Linked DNA regions of Homo sapiens. The protein of the gene in region 1 interacts with the protein of each later gene in a pairwise test. Each region holds a gene or a part of one and is shown in the gene's direction. Other genes may lie near its edges.

The links. The genes of interacting proteins can lie anywhere in the genome.
Region 2: the proteins of RAD52 (region 1) and RDM1 interact in binary tests that used the Homo sapiens proteins (3 or more experiments, as listed by UniProt).
Region 3: the proteins of RAD52 (region 1) and RPA3 interact in binary tests that used the Homo sapiens proteins (3 or more experiments, as listed by UniProt).

What each region holds. Positions count from the first base shown.
Region 1 is NC_000012.12:939,685-946,712, reverse strand, and holds part of RAD52 (DNA repair protein RAD52 homolog), read left to right. Parts: intron 1-7,028. UniProt on the Homo sapiens protein: Involved in double-stranded break repair. Plays a central role in genetic recombination and DNA repair by promoting the annealing of complementary single-stranded DNA and by stimulation of the RAD51 recombinase.
Region 2 is NC_000017.11:35,927,756-35,934,908, reverse strand, and holds the start of RDM1 (RAD52 motif-containing protein 1), read left to right. Parts: upstream 1-4,135; 5' UTR 4,136-4,181; coding exon 4,182-4,277; intron 4,278-4,609; exon of another isoform or gene 4,610-4,626; coding exon of another isoform or gene 4,627-4,653; coding exon 4,654-4,833; intron 4,834-7,153. Other genes in the region: LYZL6 (lysozyme-like protein 6 precursor), read left to right, coding at 44-113. UniProt on the Homo sapiens protein: May confer resistance to the antitumor agent cisplatin. Binds to DNA and RNA.
Region 3 is NC_000007.14:7,708,590-7,715,617, reverse strand, and holds part of RPA3 (replication protein A 14 kDa subunit), read left to right. Parts: intron 1-391; 5' UTR 392-443; intron 444-7,028. UniProt on the Homo sapiens protein: As part of the heterotrimeric replication protein A complex (RPA/RP-A), binds and stabilizes single-stranded DNA intermediates that form during DNA replication or upon DNA stress.

The sequences.
Region 1 (7,028 bases):
ATTTTGGCTGTATACGTAGTGCCATGTTTTTTTGTATTTTTGTGCTTTTGGTGATTTTGCTGTTTATAGGGGCCTCCAAGAATAGAAGTGCTGTCTAGCATTTCCAAGTTGAAGGCTGTGATATATCTTATAGAGAAAAGATAAGCTTTTAGATTAGCTTTGTTCAGGCATCACTTTTGTTGTTGGCTGTGAGTTCATGTTACTGCATCAACAATATATATTAAATAAGATATCTTTAAACAGAAGCACACATAAAACAAGGTTATGTATTGGCCTGTTGAGTAACCCTGTATTTCCCCTGGGAGCAGTGGCTCAGTATTTGCTAGTTCAGTGTTCATGATGGCTTTACAGGACATAACTACCCTGAATAATGAGAACTGACTGTCTCAGTAGTGCTTCAAGGGCAGAAAGCCTAGTGGATATTTTTCCATCTCTGCAGCTTTTAGCATTTCTTCACTCAAGGCACTCATTTTTAATATTGAACTGGCAGTTTTGATGTGGAGAGAAGCTAAAATAAGGCTAAAATGCTCTTCATACTATGTGCTGAGTGGGGACTGTGCTGAGTGTTGGGGATTCAGTGATTAGTGTATGGCCCCGCAGTTCTCTAATGGCTGAGTGTGGGAGTGCAGAGAAATGATCAGTGTGAGGGAATTAATCCTATGTTCCCACCGTGTTTTTTTGTTTTTTTTGAGACGGAGTTTCACTCTTGTCGCCCAGGCTGGAGTGCGGTGGCGTGATCTCGGCTCACTGCAACCTCCGTCTCCCAGGTTCAAGCGATTCTCCTGCCTCAACCTCCCGAGTAGCTGGGATTACAGGTACCCGCCACCGTGCCCAGCTAATTTTTGTATTTTTAGTAGAGACGGAGTTTCACCATGTTGGCCGGGCTGGTCTCGAACTCCTGACCTCATGATCTGCCTGCCTCGGCCTCCCAAAGTGCTGGGATTACTGGGTTCCCACAAATTTTAAGACTTACTTCAGGCCAGGTGTGGTGGCTTATGCCTGTAATCCCAGCATTTTGGGAGGCCGAGGTGGGCAGATCACCTGAGGTCAGGAGTTCGAGACCAGCCTGGCCAACATGGTGAAACCCCTGCCTCTACTAAAAGTACAGAAAATTAGCTGGGTGTGGTCGCGCATGCCTGTAGTTCCAGCTACTCAGGAGGCTGAGGCACCAGAATCACTTGAACCTGGGAGGTGGAGGTTGCAGTGAGCTGAGATTGCGCCACTGTACTCCAGCCTGGGCAACAGAGTGTCTCCCCCTCAAAAAAAAAAAGACATACTTCAGAGTGTGGTGAGCTGCATAAGGCTTTAGAGGTAATGACATTTTGAGATTTCAATTAAAAATTTTTTTTCTACTTTTTTTTTTTGAGACAGAGTCTCACTCTTGCTCAGGCTAGAGTGCAGTGGTGCGATCTTGGCTCACTGCAACCTTCGCCTCCTGGATTCAAGCGATTCTTGTGCCTTAGCCTCCTGAGGAGCTGAGATTACAGGCACCTGCCACCATGCCCAGCTAATTTTTGTATCTTTAGTAGAGAAGAGGTTTCATCATGTTAGCCGGGCTGGTCTTGAACTCCTGACCTCAGGTGATCTGTCTGCATTGGCCTTCCAAAGTGCTGAGATTACAGATGTGAGCCACCGTGCCTGGCCACTTTTTTTCTACTTTTGCTAATTTTTTTAAAGTTTCATGAACATTATAGTACTGTGTTCATAAATGAAAATAAAAGAAACTTGCTCCAGTCTTGTTCATCAAGCCGTTCTTGACCTTCACAGTCAGAATCTCACCCATCACCTTGTCACATCTCCCTCTTGATCTGTATATCCAGAGTCCACCTGACATGCTTCTTCAGCCCTCCACATATAATAAGAAATGGTTTTGTGAGCCGAGATTGTGCCATTGCACTGCAGCTTGGGCAACAGTGTGAGACTCCTCAAAAAAAAAAAAAAAGAAAGAAAAATGCTTTTAGGTGATAAGGAAATGGAGAAGAATAAAACATCTTTGCCAGTCTTTACCTTTTTAATATCTTGAATTCATGATTTCTTGCCATAGCCACTATCCTAGTCCAGGCTCTCTCCCTTCTACCCCTGAGTTTTTTTTTTTTTTTTTTTTACCATGTTTTTATTTCCTCTGGGAAAACACCTATCAGAATTTTGGGATCATATGACAGATACATATTTAATTTCTTTCTTTCTTTTTTGAGACAGGGTCTTCCTCTGTTGCCCAGGCTGGAGTGTAGTGGTATGATCATGGCTCACTGCAGCCTTGACCCCTTCCTCGCCCCCGCTCAAGTGATCCTCCCACCACAGCTTCCTGAGTAGCTGGGACTGCCGGCATGCTCCACCATGCCCGACTAACGTTTTGCTGCTTGTAGAGACAGCCATGTTCCCTAGGCTTGTCTTGAACTCCTGAGCCTCAAGCGATCCTTCCACTTCAGCCTCAAGTGCTGGGATTACAGGCGTGAGCCACCACTCCTGGCTACTTAATTTCTTTCTTTCTTTTTTTTTGAGACAGTCTCGTTCTGTCACCCAGGCTGGAGTGCAGTGGGGTGATCTCTTCTCACTGCAGCCTCTACCTTCCAGGCTGAAGCAAGCCTTCCACCTCAGCCCCCTGAGTAGCTAGGACTACGGGAACATTCCACCAGGCCCAGCTAATTTTTGTATTTTTTGTAGAGATGGAGTTTCATGATGTTGGCCAGGCTGGTCTTGAACTCCTCACCTCATGCAATCCGCCTGCCTCAGCCTCCCAAAGTGCTGGGATTACAGGTGTGAGCAACTGCACCCAGCGGGCCCCGCCCAGACCTATTTTCAAAATTAGAAAACCGTGAGGCTTCTGGAAGAAGATGAGAAGAATATCTTCATGACCTGAGTGTGTGCAAAGGTTTCTTAGGGCTCAGGATGCCAGAGTCACTTAAAAAAGCAAAAAAAACCCAAAAAAAAAACCACACACACAAAGATAAATATGATTGATTACATCAAAATGTAATCACAGACTACTCTAAGAAAATGAATGGGGAAACACAGGGACCTATTTGACAAAAGACTGATATTCAAGATAAATAAAGAACTAATAGGCCAGGCGCGGTGGCTCACGTCTGTAATCCTGGCACTTTGGGAGGCCGAGGCGGGGGGATCACTTGAGCTCAGGAGTTCGAGACCAGCCTGAGCAATATAGTGAAACCCCATCTCTACTAAAAATACAAGAATTAGAATTAGCTGGGCGTGATGGCACGTGCCTGTAGTCCCAGTTACTCGGGAGGCTGAGGCTGGAGAATTGCTTCAGTCAGGAAGATGGAGGTTGCAGTGAGCCGAGATTGTGCCACTGCACTCCAGCCTGGGCGACTGAACAAGACTTCGTCTCAAAAAACCAGTAGGGCTCCAGGCCTGGGATTGGGCCTCTGCTGCTCTACTCCCTGGACGTGTGGCTCCGTCCTTGGAGTCGGCCTTTGGTTTTCATGAAGAGTAGTGTGCATTAACAGCTGAGTGGTTTTATCAGCCTGTTTCCTGCCAACAGTGTATGAGAGTTCCAGTTGCTTTACATCCTTGCCAGCATTTGGTGTTGTCAGTCTTTTGAGTTATTCTGATGGGTGTGGTGTGTCATGGTCTTAATTTTAGTCCTCAGTCACTAATGGTGTTTAGCACTTTTTCCTGTGCCCATGACAATGTGCATCTTCCTTTGTGAAGTGCCTGCTCAAATCTTTTGCCCATTTTACATTGGGTTGTGTGTCTTTTTATTATTGAGTTGTAGCAGTTATTTATATAACCTTTATATCCTGGTTACCTGTCCTCTGTCTGGTTGCCTATTCATTTTCTTAGAGTTGTCTGATGAACAGAAGTTTTACATTTTGATGTAATCAGTTTTCTCTTATATTTTCTTTTATAGTTACTGCTTTCTGAGTCCTAGGAAATCTTGGCTACCTTCAGGCTGTGAAGATAATCTTTCATGTTTTCTTCTGTAAGTTTTTTTTTTTTTTGAGACAGAGTCTTGCTCTGTCGTCCAGGCTGGAGTGCGGTGATGGCGATCTCCGCTCACTGCAACCTCTGCCTCCCAGGTTCAAGCGATTCTCCTGCCCCAGCCTCCCGAGTAGCTGGGATTACAGACATGCGCCACCATGCCCAACTAATTTTTGTATTTTTATTAGAGACAGGGTTTCACCAGGTTGGCCAGGTTGGTCTTGAACTCTTGACCTTGTGATCCACCCGCCTCGGTCTCCCAACATGCTGGGATTATAGGCGTGAGCCACCGTGCCCGGCCTATAAATTTTATAGTTTTAGTTTTATGTTTAAGCCTATCACCCATTTCTAGTTTAGGTGAATGGTGTGAGATATAATTAAATATTAATTTCTTTTCCATATAGATATCCAGTCATTCCAGCACCATTTGTTGAAAATGCTATTGTATTGCGTTTTGGAAATTAAGATGACTGTACAAATGGTAATTGATGTCTGCACTCCCTTTTCTGTTCCATTGTTCAATCCTTGTGTTAGTACCACACTTTTAATTACTGTAGCTTTTTAGTAAGTCTTGAAGTCATGTAGTTGTAGGTCTTCCAATTTTGTTGTTTTCAAGCTTGATGTGAATATTCTAAATCCTCTGCATTTCCATATAAATATCAGAATTATCTTTACCAGTTTTACAGAAAAGTCTGGTAAAGTTGTGATTGGGATTGCATTGAATCTATGGATCAATTTGGAAAGAAATGACACCTAAACAGTATTGAGTCTTCAAATATATGAACTTGGTGCATTTTCCTTCTTATTTAAGCCTTTTAAAATTTCTTTTTAGGCCGGGTGCAGTGGCTTATGCCTGTAATCCCAGCACTTTGGGAGTCTGCAGCGGGCAGATCAGCTGAGGTCAGGAGTTCGAGACCAGCCTGGCCAACATGGTGAAACCCCGTCTCTACTAAAAATACAAAAATTAGCCAGGTGTGGTGGCAGGTGCCTGTAGTCTCAGCTACTTGGGAGGCTGAGGCAGGAGAACTGCTTGAACTTGCTCAGGAGGTGGAGGTTGCAGTGAGCTGAGATAGTGCCATTGCACTCCAGCCTGGGCAACAAGAGCAAAACTCTGTCTCAAAAAATAATAATAATAAAAATAAAAATTTTGGGCCAGGTGTGGCGGCTCACACCTGTAATCCCAGCAATTTGGGAGGCTGAGCCGGGTGGATCACCTGAGGTCAGGAGTTTGAGACCAGCCTGACCAACATGGAGAAACCCTGTCTCTACGAAAAATACAAAATTTGCCAGGCATGGTGGCGCATGCCTGTAATCCCAGCTACTCTGGAGGCTGAGGCAGGAGAATCACTTGAACCTGGGAGGCAGAGGTTGCAGTGAGCCGAGATGGTGCCATTGCACTCCAGCCTGGGCAACAAGAGTGAAACTCTGTCTCAAAAAAAAAAAATTCTTTTAGTTCTGTTTTATGGTTTTCAGTTCAGAAGTCTTATACATATTTTGTTAAATTGATTTCTAGATATGTTTCTTACCTTTATTGTAAAATGGAGCCATCATTTGCATCATTCATTACTCTGTATGTAATGTGTTATCATTCTCTACCTGCTTTCAAGATTTTCTCTTTATTTTTGTTTTTTAGCAGTTTGTCTGTGGTGTATCTAGGTGTCATTTTATTTGTATTTATCCGGAGATTTATTCTTGAGATTTGCAGAGCTTCTTAAATCTGTAAATTTATGTCTGTCGGCCAATTTGGGAAATTTGGAGCTATTAGTTTTAAAAATATTTCTTCTGTTCCATTCTCTTTCACTTCTTCTGTATGTGAGTTCAATTTCACTTCAATTGTATGTGAGTTAGACATTTTGATATTAGCCCACAGGATCCTGAGGTTCTTTCATTCTTTTCAATCTTTTTTTTTTCTCGAAGTTTGCATTTCGTGAGCAGGAGTGACAGTCATTCAGGATGATTTTTGAGATTCCTAGTTCAAGAGTAGTTCCTATTCTTTTCTAGGTGTAGTCAAGTATGGCTTCTAATTCTACTAGAAGGCTTTTTTGTCGGGGAGGTGGTTCTATGTCCTTTGGCTCTTACATTTTCTTTGTGTCTTTCACAGCACAGTTTTCAGAGGGTACCCTTTCTCTTTGGTTTTGTTTTGTTTTGTTTTGTTTTAGACGGAGTCTTGCTCTGTCTCCAGGCTGGAGTGCAGTGGCGCAATCTTGGCTCACTGCAACCTCTGCTCACTGCTACCTCTGCCTCCCGGGTTCAAGCAATTCTCCTGCCTCAGCTTCCTGAGTAGCTGGGACTACAGGCACGCGCCACCACACCCAACTAATTTTTGTATTTTTAGTAGAGACTGGGTTTCATCATGTTGGCAAGGCTGTTCTCCATCTCTTGACCTCGTGATCCGCCCGCCTTGGCCTCCCAAAGTGCTAGGATTACAGGCGTGAGCCACCGCGCCCGGCCAACAGAGGGTACCCTTTCATTCTTTTTCTCCTTCTTCCCAGAAGGCTTGCGTTTTCAAGACTACCTCATCAAGTTCTGCATGTGTTTAAAAGTGTCTCTACCCGACCTTCCCTTCCTCCCTCCCGATTTAACGGAATTCTTTGTTGGTGTTTTCATACTTACCGTGAGTTTTCTTTTTCAGGGTGATATTTTAGTTCCATCTTAGGCTCTCCATTGTCCTCTTCTCTCTTCTTTTTTTTTTTGAGACAGAGTCTCATTCTGTCACCCAGGCTGGAGTGCAGTGGTGTGATCTCTGCTCACTGCAACCTCTGCCTCCCAGGTTCAAGTGATTCTCCTGCCTCAGCCTCCCGAATAGCTGGGATTACAGGCGCACACAACCACGCCCACCTAATTTTTGTATTTTCAGTAGAGACGGGGTTTCACCATCTTGGCCAGGCTGGTCTCAAACTCCTGACCTCGTGATCCGCCTGCCTCAGCTTCCCAGAGTGCTGGGATTACAGGCATGAGCCACCGCGCCCGGTGCGCCCAGCCCTCTTCTCTCTTCTTTGCATCTCTCTTCCTATCTGGATCCCTCTTTGCTGTCCTTAAAGAGCTGAGATGAGAGATTGAGAAACATCTCTACAAGAAATTGA
Region 2 (7,153 bases), on another chromosome or scaffold:
GTTACTGAGTGTGAGGCAAGAACCATGTCTTTTTTCTCCGCAGGGTAGAATGGAGGTTGCACTGTTCAGGCCGGCCACTCTTCTACTGGCTGACAGGATGCCGCCTGAGATGAAACAGGGTGCGGGTGCACCGTGGAGTCATTCCAAGACTCCTGTCCTCACTCAGGGATTCTTCATTTCTTCTTCCTACTGCCTCCACTTCATGTTATTTTCTTCCCTTCCCATTTACAACTAAAACTGACCAGAGCCCCAGGAATAAATGGTTTTCTTGGCTTCCTCCTTACTCCCATCTGGACCCAGTCCCCTGGTTCCTGTCTGTTATTTGTAAACTGAGGACCACAATAAAGAAATCTTTATATTTATCGAAATATTAAAGCACTCGCTCTGCAAAGACTGTGTCCATTTATTCATTAGTCTACATATATTTGAGTACCTAAGACAGTGGGAGTGTACTAGGTAGTAGAAGGAAGACAAAACACAGCTATTGTTGTTTAGGTGTTCATAATCTAGGTGGAGAAGCAGAGACATCCACAAACATTACAATAGGTAATTAAATGTATAGTAAAATCCATAATTATTGCTTTGAAACAGTATCAGCATCCAAGTAATTCCTCCAAAGAACAATTTTTGAAGTAAAAGAGAAAACTCAGAAGTAGGCAATGGGTGGGGTCTGGTATTGATGTGGAGAAAGTAGTGATGGGATGGAGAAATAGTGGCAGATACCAATAATTTGGGGGTGCTTTGGGAGAATAAGCTAGGATCTAGATGATTAAAAAAAGGTGCTCTGGACAGGATCTGGTTTGCCTGGAGGGTGCTGAGGTGGAGTAGAACATGCTTAAAGAAAAGGCAAAATCAGAAAAGTGACAGTTGAAGGAATGTCCTACACATAGCCACCGTCAGTAGTGTCTGACCAATCTGGGGTTTTATCTTGGACCACTTATTTCTCTACCACTGAGCCTTAGCTGTTTCTACTATAGAAGGAGGGATTTGACTATTCAGTAGTTGCCAGACTTTTGTATTTCACAGGTGATAAAATGTAAAAAATAATTAAACCTGAGATTTCTTTCTTTTTTTTTTTTTTTTGAGACAGAGTCTCACTGCGTAGCCCAGGCTGGAATGCAATGGCAGGATCTTGGCTCACTGCAACCTCCAACTCCCAAGCTCAAGCAATTCTCCTACCTCAGCTTCTCAAGTAGGTGGGACTACAAGTGTGTGCTACTACACCCAGCTAATCTTTTTTTTTTTTTTTTTTGAAATGGAGTCTCACTCTGTCACCCAGGCTGGAGTGCAGTGGCATGATCTCCACTCACTGCAACCTCCGCCTCCTGGGTTCAAGCAATTATCCTGCCTCAGCCTCCCCAGTAGCTGGGATTACAGGCGCCCCCCGACCACACCCGGCTAATTTTTGTATTTTTAGTAGAGACGGGGTTTCACGGTGTTGGCTAGGCTGGTCTCGAACTCTTGACCTCAGGTGATCCACCCACCTCAGCCTCCCAAAGTGCTGGAATTACAGGCATGAGCCACCGTGCCCAGCTATTTTGTATTTTTAGTAGAGACAGGGTTTTACCACGTTGGCCAGCCTGGTCTCAAACTCCTGACCTCAAGTAATCCATCTGCCTCGGCCTCCCAAGTGCTGGGATTATGGATGTCAGGCACCAGGCCCGGCCGAGGTTTCTAATTTTTAATTTTAATGTCCAAGTAAGAGCATTAAAGCAACTATCCTCTATTAGCATCTTTTCATAGAAAAATTTTTAGTATCAACATTATAGGGAGGTCATACTTGTAGAAGAATGGAGTGGAATCTACTTTATTTTATGAAATTATAAAAAACCTGATTATATTTTCCATATGGTCCTCATTTTGTAGAGTAGGGGTGAAAACTTTATCACAGCATGAGTCTGAGGATCATTATTCAGAAATCACAAGAGACTTGTCCTGTAGGGTCTCTTCTGGCTCTGACATTCTAGGATTAAAATAAACAGTAGTAGGACTCACTTTACTTCTTGTGTTACTGAAACTGCCTTTATAAAAATTATGACAAATCTGACCTAACTGATTCCATTTTGCTTCTAACCTCCAAGCTGCCCTTGCTCATTCCTGGGCACAGGCCAAGCTAACTATGAGAGGAATTTTTGCTGCTTAACTTTGAAACAAAGATAATAGTCCCTTCCTGAAACAAACCACCTCCCTGCTTGGGAATCAGATCTCCTCTGTAAAACTAACAAATTAGCCACAAGATTAGAAATTATGGCTCAGAAATTATGTAGACAGAGGCCACAAGATTCCTAACCTCTCCAGTTGCTCCTATACAAAACACTGTTGTAGTCTCAGCAATGCACCAAGATATAACACTCTGTAGTTGTCTGATATAACCCCCGGAGTTCTTTGTCCTACCTCCAAGATGATTAAGGAGCGTGGACACAAAGGTGGGGTTACAGCAAAAGTTTAATAAGCGAAAGAAGAAAGCTCTCTGCCAGCAGAGCGTGGGGGCCAGAACGGGTGTCCCCTGTGAGGCTGGGGTCTTTATGGACTGGGAAGGGGAAGCAATGTGCTTAGTCCGACAGCTGTCTTGGAGAACTCAGCTTGGCAAGGAGCCTTGGCCCAGGACCAATCAGGAGCTGAAATGATTCTTAGATGCTGCTTAGCTTGGCCCAAGACCTATCAGGGGCTGAAGTGATGATTCATAGAGGCTGGACTTACAGGTCCAAAAAGGAAAGTAGAGTGCCCACTGGAACTCACCGGAGCCCACTATGCCCATGCCCACAAAAGTAGAAGCAACTTCATCCTGGGAGCCCACTGACTATACAAAGGACAAAGGCATTTCTATGCCAGGCCTTGTTCTTTTGTCTGAGTGAGCTGAAGTTTTGTGCAAGCTTTTATCCAAATGGGCCAGAGGTTTTTCCATCTGTGCAGCCGTGGGCATGTCTCCAGGCACAACACCCTATGCTAGTTCTCTTATGGGTGCTGGTAGCTTGAATTTTTTCCCAGGCTGCTTTTTATGTTATGTGGGGGTAAGGCACTGACCCTGTGAGCCGGGATCTCTCCGGGGACCCTTCCCTTGCTTTGTGTCCAAGCTAACTAACTGCTTTCAACATTACTATTGTAAAACCTAATATTGGGGTTCTAGGTATTTTTCAGACCCTTCATTCTGATGGACCAGCTGGCACCACTCACATGGGCAAACTGGCTCATCTGGTCTTGCGGCCCCCAACCAGGAATTCACTCAGCACAAGAACACAAGCTCTGACTCTCTATGATTTCATCCTTGACCCAACCAGTCAGCATTTCCTATTCCCTGGCCCCCTGACTGCCAAATTACCCTTTAAAAAACACCAGCTTCCAAATTTTCAGGGAGGCTAAGTTGAGTAATAGTAAAACTCCAGTCTTCTATTTAGCTGGTTCTGTGCTTATGAAACTCTTTGCCTATTTCAATAACACTGTCTCAGTAAATCAGCTTTTCTGGGCAGTGGGTATGATGAACCCACCAGTTGATTACACTCCTCCACCACGTAGCTGATTATGACACCTACCCTTCTCAGACACCATCAGCTCCAATGTTGGTGCCTTATTTGGACTTATTCTTTGTGGGTTTGTTTGTTTGTTTGTTTGTTTTTCTTTTTTCAAAATTAATCTCTCCTTCTCACTCGTACCTCCAACCTCTCACATCATCTGACCCCCACAAGTACACATACACGATTCACCAGAATGACGTAGGACAATCAGGGAATTCTTTTTAAGGATTTCATGCGAGACTGTTAATGGTTTAGTGAGTTATACTTTTATTTGCAATTTTAAACTCTTAAAAAAACCTCTTAAGTCAAAAGATTGCATCTTTCGTGGTTATTTCCCACAAGTGCTAATACTTAGTACCCTAATCTCCTTCAGGAGTGAAGATGAAGCTGGCTTCTATAAACACGTCCCTACCCTTCCATCCTGTCAGCCTATTTTGGGACTTTACCCTAAACATGCATTGAACGGAAGCTCTAAACTCAGGGATCTTGTGGCTGTGACTGGAGGAGGGGAACAGACTCAGAGGCTGGCCCTAGGTAGGAGGGGCAAGGGAGCGATCCGAGCCCCGTCCCCGCCCCTCGCATGCGCCTCTTTTTAAAAAAGCGCGGGCGTGCCTTGCGCAGGCGCAATGCTGGGGCGAGGGTTAGCCGCGCAGGTGCGGTGAAGGGAGGATGGCGGAGTTGGTACCTTTTGCGGTTCCCATCGAGAGTGACAAAACCTTGCTAGTGTGGGAGCTGAGCTCCGGACCCACGGCCGAGGCTTTGCATGTGAGCCGGGGCCAGGATGGAGGGAGGGATGGAGAAAGCTGCCCACCCGCTGACTGGGAGTTCCGGAGTCCTGCCTCAGACCCTCACCTGCCTGAGCCTCCGCTGAAGGACTCTTAATTATAAAGGGGATCCCAACTGACAACTGACGACCCCCAACAGATTTTTAGAGTCCCGGAGAGGTATCTCTCCACCTTCAGAACGTTTTACCTTCCAGTGCTTCTTAAAGTTTAGGATTTTAAGAGGAAAACCTGTTGATTAAGTGGGAAGTGTTTTGAATCGCATCCTTCGCGAAGAGAGGTTTGGGGAATATGAGGGCATGTGCGGTTTTGTTTTCTGGGCGTGAGATTTCATGCATTTACTTGTCCCACCCCCACAGCATTCTCTGTTCACAGCATTTTCTCAGTTTGGCCTTCTGTATTCAGTCCGGGTCTTCCCAAATGCTGCAGTGGCCCATCCTGGTTTCTATGCCGTCATTAAGTTTTATTCTGCAAGGGCTGCCCACAGAGCCCAAAAGGCATGCGACCGGAAGCAGCTTTTTCAGAAATCTCCAGTCAAGGTGGGTCCAAATATGGAATTCCTAGCTCCGCTGAAATGAAGTGCTGAATTCAATAATAGGTTAGCATTTGTCCAGCACGCTGGTTTACAGAATATTTTCAGATGCATTGCCACACTAATCTTCCAGTTCTCTGGGTTTTTTACATGAAGAAACTCAAACTCAAGGTGGTTGAGCGACTTGTTTAAGGTTCCTGACAAGAATTATGGAAACTCGAGATTGAACTAAAACCTACTGATGCTAAACCTCATGTCATTTTATGCTGTCCCTTTTTAAGAAATCTCAGCTTGGGCAACAAAATGAGACCCCATCTCTATAAAAAAAATTGTAAAGATAAGGCTGGGCACCGTGGCTCATGCCTGTAATCCCAGCACTTTGGGAGATCGAGGCGGGCTGATCACTTGAGGCCAGCAGTTTGAGACCAGCCTGGGCAACATAGCAAAACTCCATCTGTACTATAAATACAAAAACTAGCCGGGCATGGTGGCATGCGCCTGTAGTCCCAGCTACTCGGGAGGCTGAAGCATGGGAATTACTTGAACCCAGGAGGTGGAGGCTGCAGTGACCCGAGATTGTGCCACTGCACTCTAGCCTGGGTGACAGAGTGAGACTCCATCTCAAAAAAAGAAAGAAAGAAAAATAAAAAATTAAATATCAGCCAGATGTGGCATGCACCTGTAGTCCCAGCTACTTGGGAGACTGAGGTGGGAGGATCGCTTGAGCCCAGGAGTTTGAGGATGCAGTGAGCAATAATTGCATCACTGCACTCCTGCCTGGGCCACAGAGTGAAACCCTATCTCTAAAAAATGACTGAATGAATGAAATCTTTGCCAGAAGACTTCTGCTTATATTTACTTTTTAATTTTTTTAGAGACAGAGTATCCCTGTGTTGCCCAGGCTGGTCTCTAAATCCTGGCCTCAAGCAGTCCTCCTGCCTCAGCCTCTTAAGTAGCTAGGTACAGGCCACCATGCCCAGCTATATTTACTTTTTATTTTTATTTTTTGAGATGGAGTCTCATTTTGTCACCCAGGCTGGAGAGCAGTGGCATGATCTTGGCTCACTGCAACCTCTGCCTTCCGGGTTCAAGTGATTCTCCTGCCTCAACCTCCTGAGTAGCTGGGACTACAGGCGCCTGCCACCACACCTGGCTAATTTTTGTATTTTAGTAGAGATGGGGTTTCACCATGTTGGCCAGTCTGGTCTCGAATTCCTGACCTCAAGTGATCCACCCACCTCAGCCTCCCAAAGTGCTGGGACTACAGGTGTGAGCCACTGTGCCCAGCCATATATTATATATTTACTTTTTTTTTTTTTAAAGACAGAGTTTCGCTCTTGTTGCCCAGGCTGGAGTGCAATGGTGTGATCTCAGCTCACCACAACCTCCGCCTCCCGGGTTCAAGCGATTCCCCTGCCTCAGCCTCCCAAGTAGCAGGGATTACAGGCATGCACCACCACGCCTGGCTGATTTTGTATTTTTGGTAGAGATGGTGTTTCTCCATGTTGGTCAGGCTGGTCTCGAACTCCTGAACTCAGGTGATCTACCCGCCTCAGCCTCCCAAAGTGCTGGGATTACAAGCGTGAGCCACCGCGCCCAGCCTATATATTTAGTTTTATGTGAATTTAAAATGTGTGGGTGTGACCAGGTCTTCTGCCAGCTGTTACATAAAGGAGACTGTATCATCATCATCACATCATCATCATCATACTCACCATGGCTCACAAACTGCCTGTTTGAAACTCCCTTCAGTTCTGAGAGGATGGGAACATTCTTTAAGCGGTATTGTAGAAACCCTATTCCATATTAACATGCCAACCAATTTTACTTTCCCAGAGCCACAGAATGATATCTCATTGTATGCCTCAATTCAGTCATCTTTCCCTTTTCAAGGACCATTTCAATTCCTGATTGGCTACTTGATCTGACTGCTTCCTACTAATCTTGCTGCCTATTCTTCTCTATATTCCATTCCTCATTGAATTAACCTTGATCAAATCTGAGAACTCTGCTTAGTAATGACTCCAGGTATACTACTCCCACTTCAGTAGCCTGTTCAATGCCCTCTTAGCCTGTTCAACACCCTCTTCAATCCTGGTTCCACTTTCTGTGACTGAAATGATTACCTGTGAGATATTATTTAACTTTTGAACTATGGTCTGTTTCTAACCTGTGACCATTTCACATAGCCACTCAAATATTATAAAGGTACAACTAAGATTATGAAACATTTACTTGGTATCATTTTGCAAATAATGAGTTTTTAGTGCTCTTTGGACATTGAGACCATTTCATAAGCTTTAGGTTTTGAGAATTTCACAGCATAA
Region 3 (7,028 bases), on another chromosome or scaffold:
AAACTTTATCCTCATTTGAATGAAAACAGAGCTCTTCTTTGTATTGTTCATAATGGCATACCCAACACCCAGCACAGCACCTAGCACACAGAAATATTCAGATATTGTCGGAATGCATGAATGTTTATATAATTTCATGGAAGCATTAATTATTGAAATAAGAGTGCACTTCCCTAAGTTACTTATCAGGGAACTAGCTTTGGTTATCAGTAGCTTTGAGTTTCAGATTTGGGAAAAAATTCATTAAATTAGCTATTCTAACAGCTAGCTATAAGGTCTATGGTCAACTCTTCTGCTACTACTATTCACCAAGATCATTGATGAAACTGTATTCATAAATCTGGTGAAAACTTTTCAGTTCTTATCCTACTTGTAGTTCACTTTGTCTCAGGTACTCAGAAAAAGGATGTGAAGACAATGCACAGGGAATACAATAGTTTCAGGTAAGTTTATTTTCTTTAACTGTTTCTATGCTGAAGGTGCATATTAATGGTGAGATATTCTATAATTCAGAGTTCATCTCGTAAAACACTAAAAAAAAGTATTTTTTTTAAGTTCTAAGATTTGTGGATTTGCCTACAACAAAAAACTGCAGTTGGTTAGTTCTAGTTTCATTGCTGCCTATGGCAACTGTAATTCCTCTGTAGTTTTTTGTTGTTGTTGTTGTTGTTGTTTAATTCTAGTGCCCCTGTTCTGCTTAGTTCAACCACATGGTACAACAGGTCTGCAAGTGTTACTATCAACTAAAAAAAAAAAAAAAAAAAGAAAAATTTTTGAACAACCAGTTCATGAGGAAATAAAAAAATTACTCTACACAAGTGCCCAACACCCTAAATCCTGACTTTCTCCCAGCTTCCAACCTGTTACTTGCTTTAACCTTCCCCCAGGAAGGTTTTCAGCTGAGGCCTTTATTTGCAGTTAGGGACACCTGATGGAGTTCTAAGTCTTTCTTATGTAAGTCCAACATATAATACATTGTACACAACCTCCAACTGTTTTAAAGCAAATGAGAATTTAAAGATATTTACAAATCAATCTACCACTGATTCCTAGATCCTAAGTCATCTCACCCACACCTAAATTGACAGCTCCTTTTTTATTTTAGCAATTAAACTATATAGATTATTTCTAAAGCATTTAACAAAGTTTCGTAGCTATAAGTACTCCCTCTTTATTCATGTTTAAGTACAACCTCTTAATTCATATTTTAATTAAATCATGCAATTATAATAAACAAGTACATACATTTAGGAGCAAACAGCTTGACACTTCAGCAGCACTCTGCTGGAGCAGCCAAAGAAAGTCTGCTCATCAGAGAATAAACTAGATGCTGTCAACATCCAAGGATTTATAGAAAAGTTGGAAATGCTGGTCAATATGCAAAGTCATATAAGTGGAGGTCAGTTAAGACTGATATGCTTTTCTTTGAGAAAAGGCCATGAATCAAGTCTCAACACATTTCAGGAATTTCTATCATTTGTACCACCCTCTCTGACCACAGGACATTAAATTAAAAATCTTCATCAAAAAGATAACACACAAAAAAACTCAATTTTTGGAAATCTTAAAACATTTAAAAATAACTCAACAAAGAAGTATTGACGATGAAAAACGTGTGGGGCAGGTGTGGTGGCACATGCCTGTAGTCCCAGCTACTCAGGAGGCCAAGGCAGGAAGATCACTTGAGACTAGGAGGTCGAGGCTGCAGTGAGCTGTCTGTGGTCACACCACTGCACTCCAGCCTGGGTGACAGAGTGAGACCCTGCCTCTAGAAAAAATTTTTTTAATTTTTTGAAAAGAGAAAAATGTGCAAAATGACAAACGAATGGAAATAATACAAATTAAAATTTGGAAGCTGCTCAATAGCATTTAAAGGGAAATACAGGGCATTATTAATGAACATATTAGAATTTTTAAAAGCTTAAAAATGATGATCCAAGGACAAACAACCAACTTAAAAAGTCAAAATGAAACTAACAAAATAAACTCCAAAGAAAATGAAAAAGGAAATAATTAAGGTAAGAGCAAGAAATGATGAAACAGAAAATAAAATGCAAAAGAGGAACAATACATCCTAAAACTGGTCTTTTGAAAACACTAAGAAAATAAATAGTAAAGCAATAAATAAACAATATTGCCATGGGGGGGAGGAGCAGAACATAATGAAAATCCCAGAGATTAAAAAATGGTAAGAAGATATCATTTAAAAAAAAAAAAAACTCTGTCTATAAACTTAGATTTGTTTGTTTGTTTGTTTTTGTTTTGTTTTGTTTTGAGATGGAGTCTCACTCTGTCACCCAGGCTGGAGTGCAGTGGCGCAATCTCAGCTCACCACAACCTCCGCCTCCTGGGTTCAAGTGATTCTCCTGCCTCAGCCTCCTGAGTAGCTGGGACTACAGGTGCACGCCACCATGCCCAGCTAATTTTTTTTTTTTGTATTTTTAGTAGAAACAGGGTTTCACCATGTTGGTCAGGCTGGTCTCAATCTCCTGACCTTGTGATCTGCCTGCCTTAGCCTCCCAATGTGCTGGGATTATAGGTGTGAGCCACCGCGCGCGGCCCTAGAATATTTTTTGAATGAGCAATCACCTAGAAAAATATCTTACCAAATTGACACAATAGGCTAGTCTGCAATTATCAACAAATTCATTCGGTACATAAAAGCTACCCACTAAAGAAACACGAGGCCAAGATAATTTTTACAGGTGAATTCTATTAAAATCAAATCTTATACCAATTCTAACAACACTCTATGCCTATTATGTTTCTACAATAAGCCTTTAGCCAACCAGGAGCAACCCAAAAAAACAAAATGTATTGTATGTAGTAGTTCACAATTGCAAACATTATAAGCATTCTTTTTACAATCAAAAGTGGGGAAAAGATGTTTTCTTTGACACTTCTCTTCAACATACTAGAGGTCCTAGACCATGCAGTAAGACCAAAAGATAAAATGAAACCACAAGGATTTGAATGAAACAAAACTCACTATTCACAGAGGTTATAATTACGTACTTAGAAAATTCAAAAGAATCTAAAGATGAATTATGGGAAGTAAATATTTTATCAAGATGGTTGCTACAAGTATCAGCTACATGTTTCTATGCTGGCAACAAACAGAAAATACAACTTTAAAAATATTTACTATAATAATAAAACAAAAAAGCACTCTAAGAATAAATCTGACAAAAGCAGAAATGTGATTTTTATGAAAAATGCATGGCAATTTTACAAAAATGTATTAAGGAAACCTAAGCAAATGGACAGAAATATATTTCTGAAGAAGACTAAATATTGTAAATATAGCAATTCTCCCCTAAATTAATCTATATGTTCAATAAAATTTCAACAAAAATCACATCAGAGTGGGTAGGTTTGAGTGATTATCCATCTGTTATTCATTTTTTATTTATTTGGCATAAGATCAACTGATGCTTCATTATATAGAAAAGCAGAGAACAAAGGAAGGTTGAGATGGTTTTAAAGGATGGTAATATAATGAGCTTTATGACATTGGCTAAGAGAGAGAAAAATAGCCTCATAAAGTAGGAGAACCAAAGATACTATATATGTAAGAGTAAGCTTGGAAGATACGTGAAGAAAAGAAGATGAATTAATCCAAAATAGTACTAAGAAAATAGGTTATCCCTACAAAAAAAAATTAAAATCGGATCGCTATACCACACTATAACCAAAGTTAACCATAGAGCTATAAGAAGATGCTATAGGAAGATGACTTTCTGATCTCCAAGAAGGGACTTTTTAAATCAGACTGAAATATGAAAGTTAAGGAAAAGTTTTATATATTTTAAAACTGTCACATCAAAATGTCTCTTCATTAACAGATAAAAAGAAAAACATAAGTCATTAAAATGCAACAAAATTTGTAACTAGATCCCCTTAGAATCAACTTTTTAAATGACAGACAATACAGCAGGGAAAAGAGATCAATAGTGATTTTACTGAGCAAAAAAACCACATATGACTATTAAACATAAATAAAAATGTCCAATTCCATTATAAACAAGAAAATGTAAATTAAAAACACAAGATACCATTTTCTAACCAACAGACTGATAAAAATTTAAGTCTCACAGTATTACATGTTAAAAAGGATAGAGTATAATATCCTTGAAGTACAATATCCTTAAAAAGGATAGAGTATAATATGAAAAGGATAGAATTTTCATATACCACTTGGGAAAAAAATTTGCCATGATTTACTAAAGTTAACATGTGCATAGCCTGTAATTCCTCCCGGAAATAAAATCTAGAGGAAAGCTCACATATGTGCACCAGGAGACATGTACAAGGATGTTTGTAACAGCATCATGTTGTCTTTTAATTGAACTTTTTCAGATAATTCTAGATTCACAGGCAGATTGGAGAAATTATATGGAAATATCCCATGTAGCTTCTACCTGGTTTACCACAATGGCAACATCTTGCAAAACTATAGTTCAATACCACAACCAGGATATTTCATTCACACAGACCAGATACAGAACATCTCCATAACCACCAGAATCCCCAGTGTTATCCTTCTATAGCCACACACACTTGCCTCTAACTTTCACCCCATCCTTACCCACCGGCGACCAATGATTTCTCTATTTTTTGTGTACAGTTTGGTCATTTCAAGAATGCTACATAAATGAAGTCATACAGTACGTTACCTTTAGGGATTGGCTCTTTTCACTCAGCATAATTCTCTGGAGATTCATCCAGGTTGTTGTATATATCAACAGTTTGTTACTTCTTCTTGCTGAGTATTATTCCATGATATAGATATACCATAGATTTAACCATTCACCTGTTGAAGGATATTTGGTGTGTATCCAGTTTGGGTCTATTATGAATAAAATTGCTATAAATACTCAGTTTTATGCACATATACGTCTTCAATTTCTCTGGGATAAATGCCCAAAGTGTAATTGCTGAGTCGTATAGTAACTGCATATTCAGCTTTTCAGAAACTGTCTATTTTCCAGAGTAATTGTACCATTTTACATTCCTATCATCAATAAGTGATCCAGATTCTCTTCATCCTTACCAGCATTTGGTGTTATTACTATTTATTTTAGCTATTCTGATACAGGTTTGTAGAGACCTATCATTATGGTTTTAATTTGCATTATGGCTAATGACACTTATTCATGTGCTTATTTGCCATATGTATATCCTCTTCAGTGAAATGTCTCTTCATGTCTTTTGCCCATTTTCTAATTTGGTTTTATGTTTTTTTGTTTTTTGTTTTTTACTGCTGAGTTTTGCAAGTACTTATTCTAGGGACTAGTCCTTTCATTTTGGGCAATTTTTGCATAAAGTGTGAGACACAGATCAAGGTGTTTTGTTTTTTCTTCTGCCTACTAATGTTCAGTAACAGCACTGTTTTTAGGAAAACAAAACAAAACCCCAAATGTTCATCATCAGAACAGATATATAAATTGTGGTATATTCATCAATGGAATGTCAAATAAAAATGAAAGAACTAAAGATACATAGAGCAATATAGATGAGACCAGATACATGATACTGAGTGAGAGAGGCAAATTGCTGAAGAACATATTGTACATACATTGTGAGTGACTCGATTTATATATGGTTGTAAAACATACAAAACTACACATATGAAAAATATGTTAACACTATTTAAAAAGAGACCCCAAAAAAGCAGAATTTAAAGAGTGGAATTTACCTCTGAGGTGGGAGTAAGGAGAAGACTTAGAGAACTTCAAGGTTAACAAGAAATTATATTTCTTAAACCAATTGGTGGGTACACAGGTGTTCATCACATTGTCATTCTGAATATGTTCTCATTATTTAAAAAAAAAAACTTTAAAAGGTTATTTTTCAAATTGAGATTTGCATAAGCAAGAGCTAAGAATAATAGCTGGTAAGATGTCACTTTAAAGATCTTACCCTCAGCAGGTAAAAAAACAGTTATTATAAATTGTAATACAGGAACATACCAAACAGACCCTTGTTAGGGAAAGATGACTTCTGAGCAAACAGGTGACTTCTGACAAACCATTCTTATCCCACAAGCCTCATTTTGCCCTTGCAGGCTCAGCGCCTGACTTTTCTTTCAACTTCAAGTCCCCCAGTCATTCACCTTCTCTCCACACAGTTCCTTCTGCTTTGTTTTACAGCATTCTGCCCTCCTCGGGTGGCAATGCTTTAAGTCAACACCAACATCTGACCTCTCCAGCTTATCCACAGGACTTATCTTCTTAAGAGATGGTGTGAGGACAAAGGGTGAGCCTTCCTGACTTGAATTAATGACGACCCACAATTGAACAAGTTTCTAATGTTCATATTTACAAAGAATATAGTCTAGAATCTCAGTTAAATCCATATTAAAAGTAACCCCATGCATAACATTATTCACACATATAATTGAGATAAATCTCAGCACACAGATAGGAAAACAAAGACAGTCAATTTCAAACAACTAATAAAATTATTTAACCATTACAAAATCCCTTAACCATGCCGAATTTTGCAAAATATCTAAGAAATTATTATGCAAGACACTGAAAGATGTGTTATTAAGTAGTTAATTGGTATTTTTAATAGTTAGGACTGTTTTCCTCTTCTGTCTTCTCCTCCTCTCCTCTTTTCCTCCCACACTTTCTCCCTTCCTCTCCCTTTCTCTCTCTCTCCCTCTCTCTCTCTCACACACACACAGACACACAAACACAAACACACACCCCTTGCTGGTTAAAAACTTCTTAAAAACATACAACTGCCTGTATTTGTATATATACATATGCATTTGGTGTCTTGTTATAACTTCCCTTTAAACCACATATTAATGGGCAAAAAAAGTCCTAACATTCTATCTGTTGAAAAGCTGGGTCTGTCTCCAATAAACATAGTTGCTCGTTTCAGTCAAATCAGCTTATTTACTAATTATAAAATATAATTTTAAGATGGCCAAAACGAAGTAGTAGGAAAAGTATATTACTACTTTAATGGAATTTGCTTCTATTTTTGAGGTCTGTCCCAAAAGGACAAATATGTTG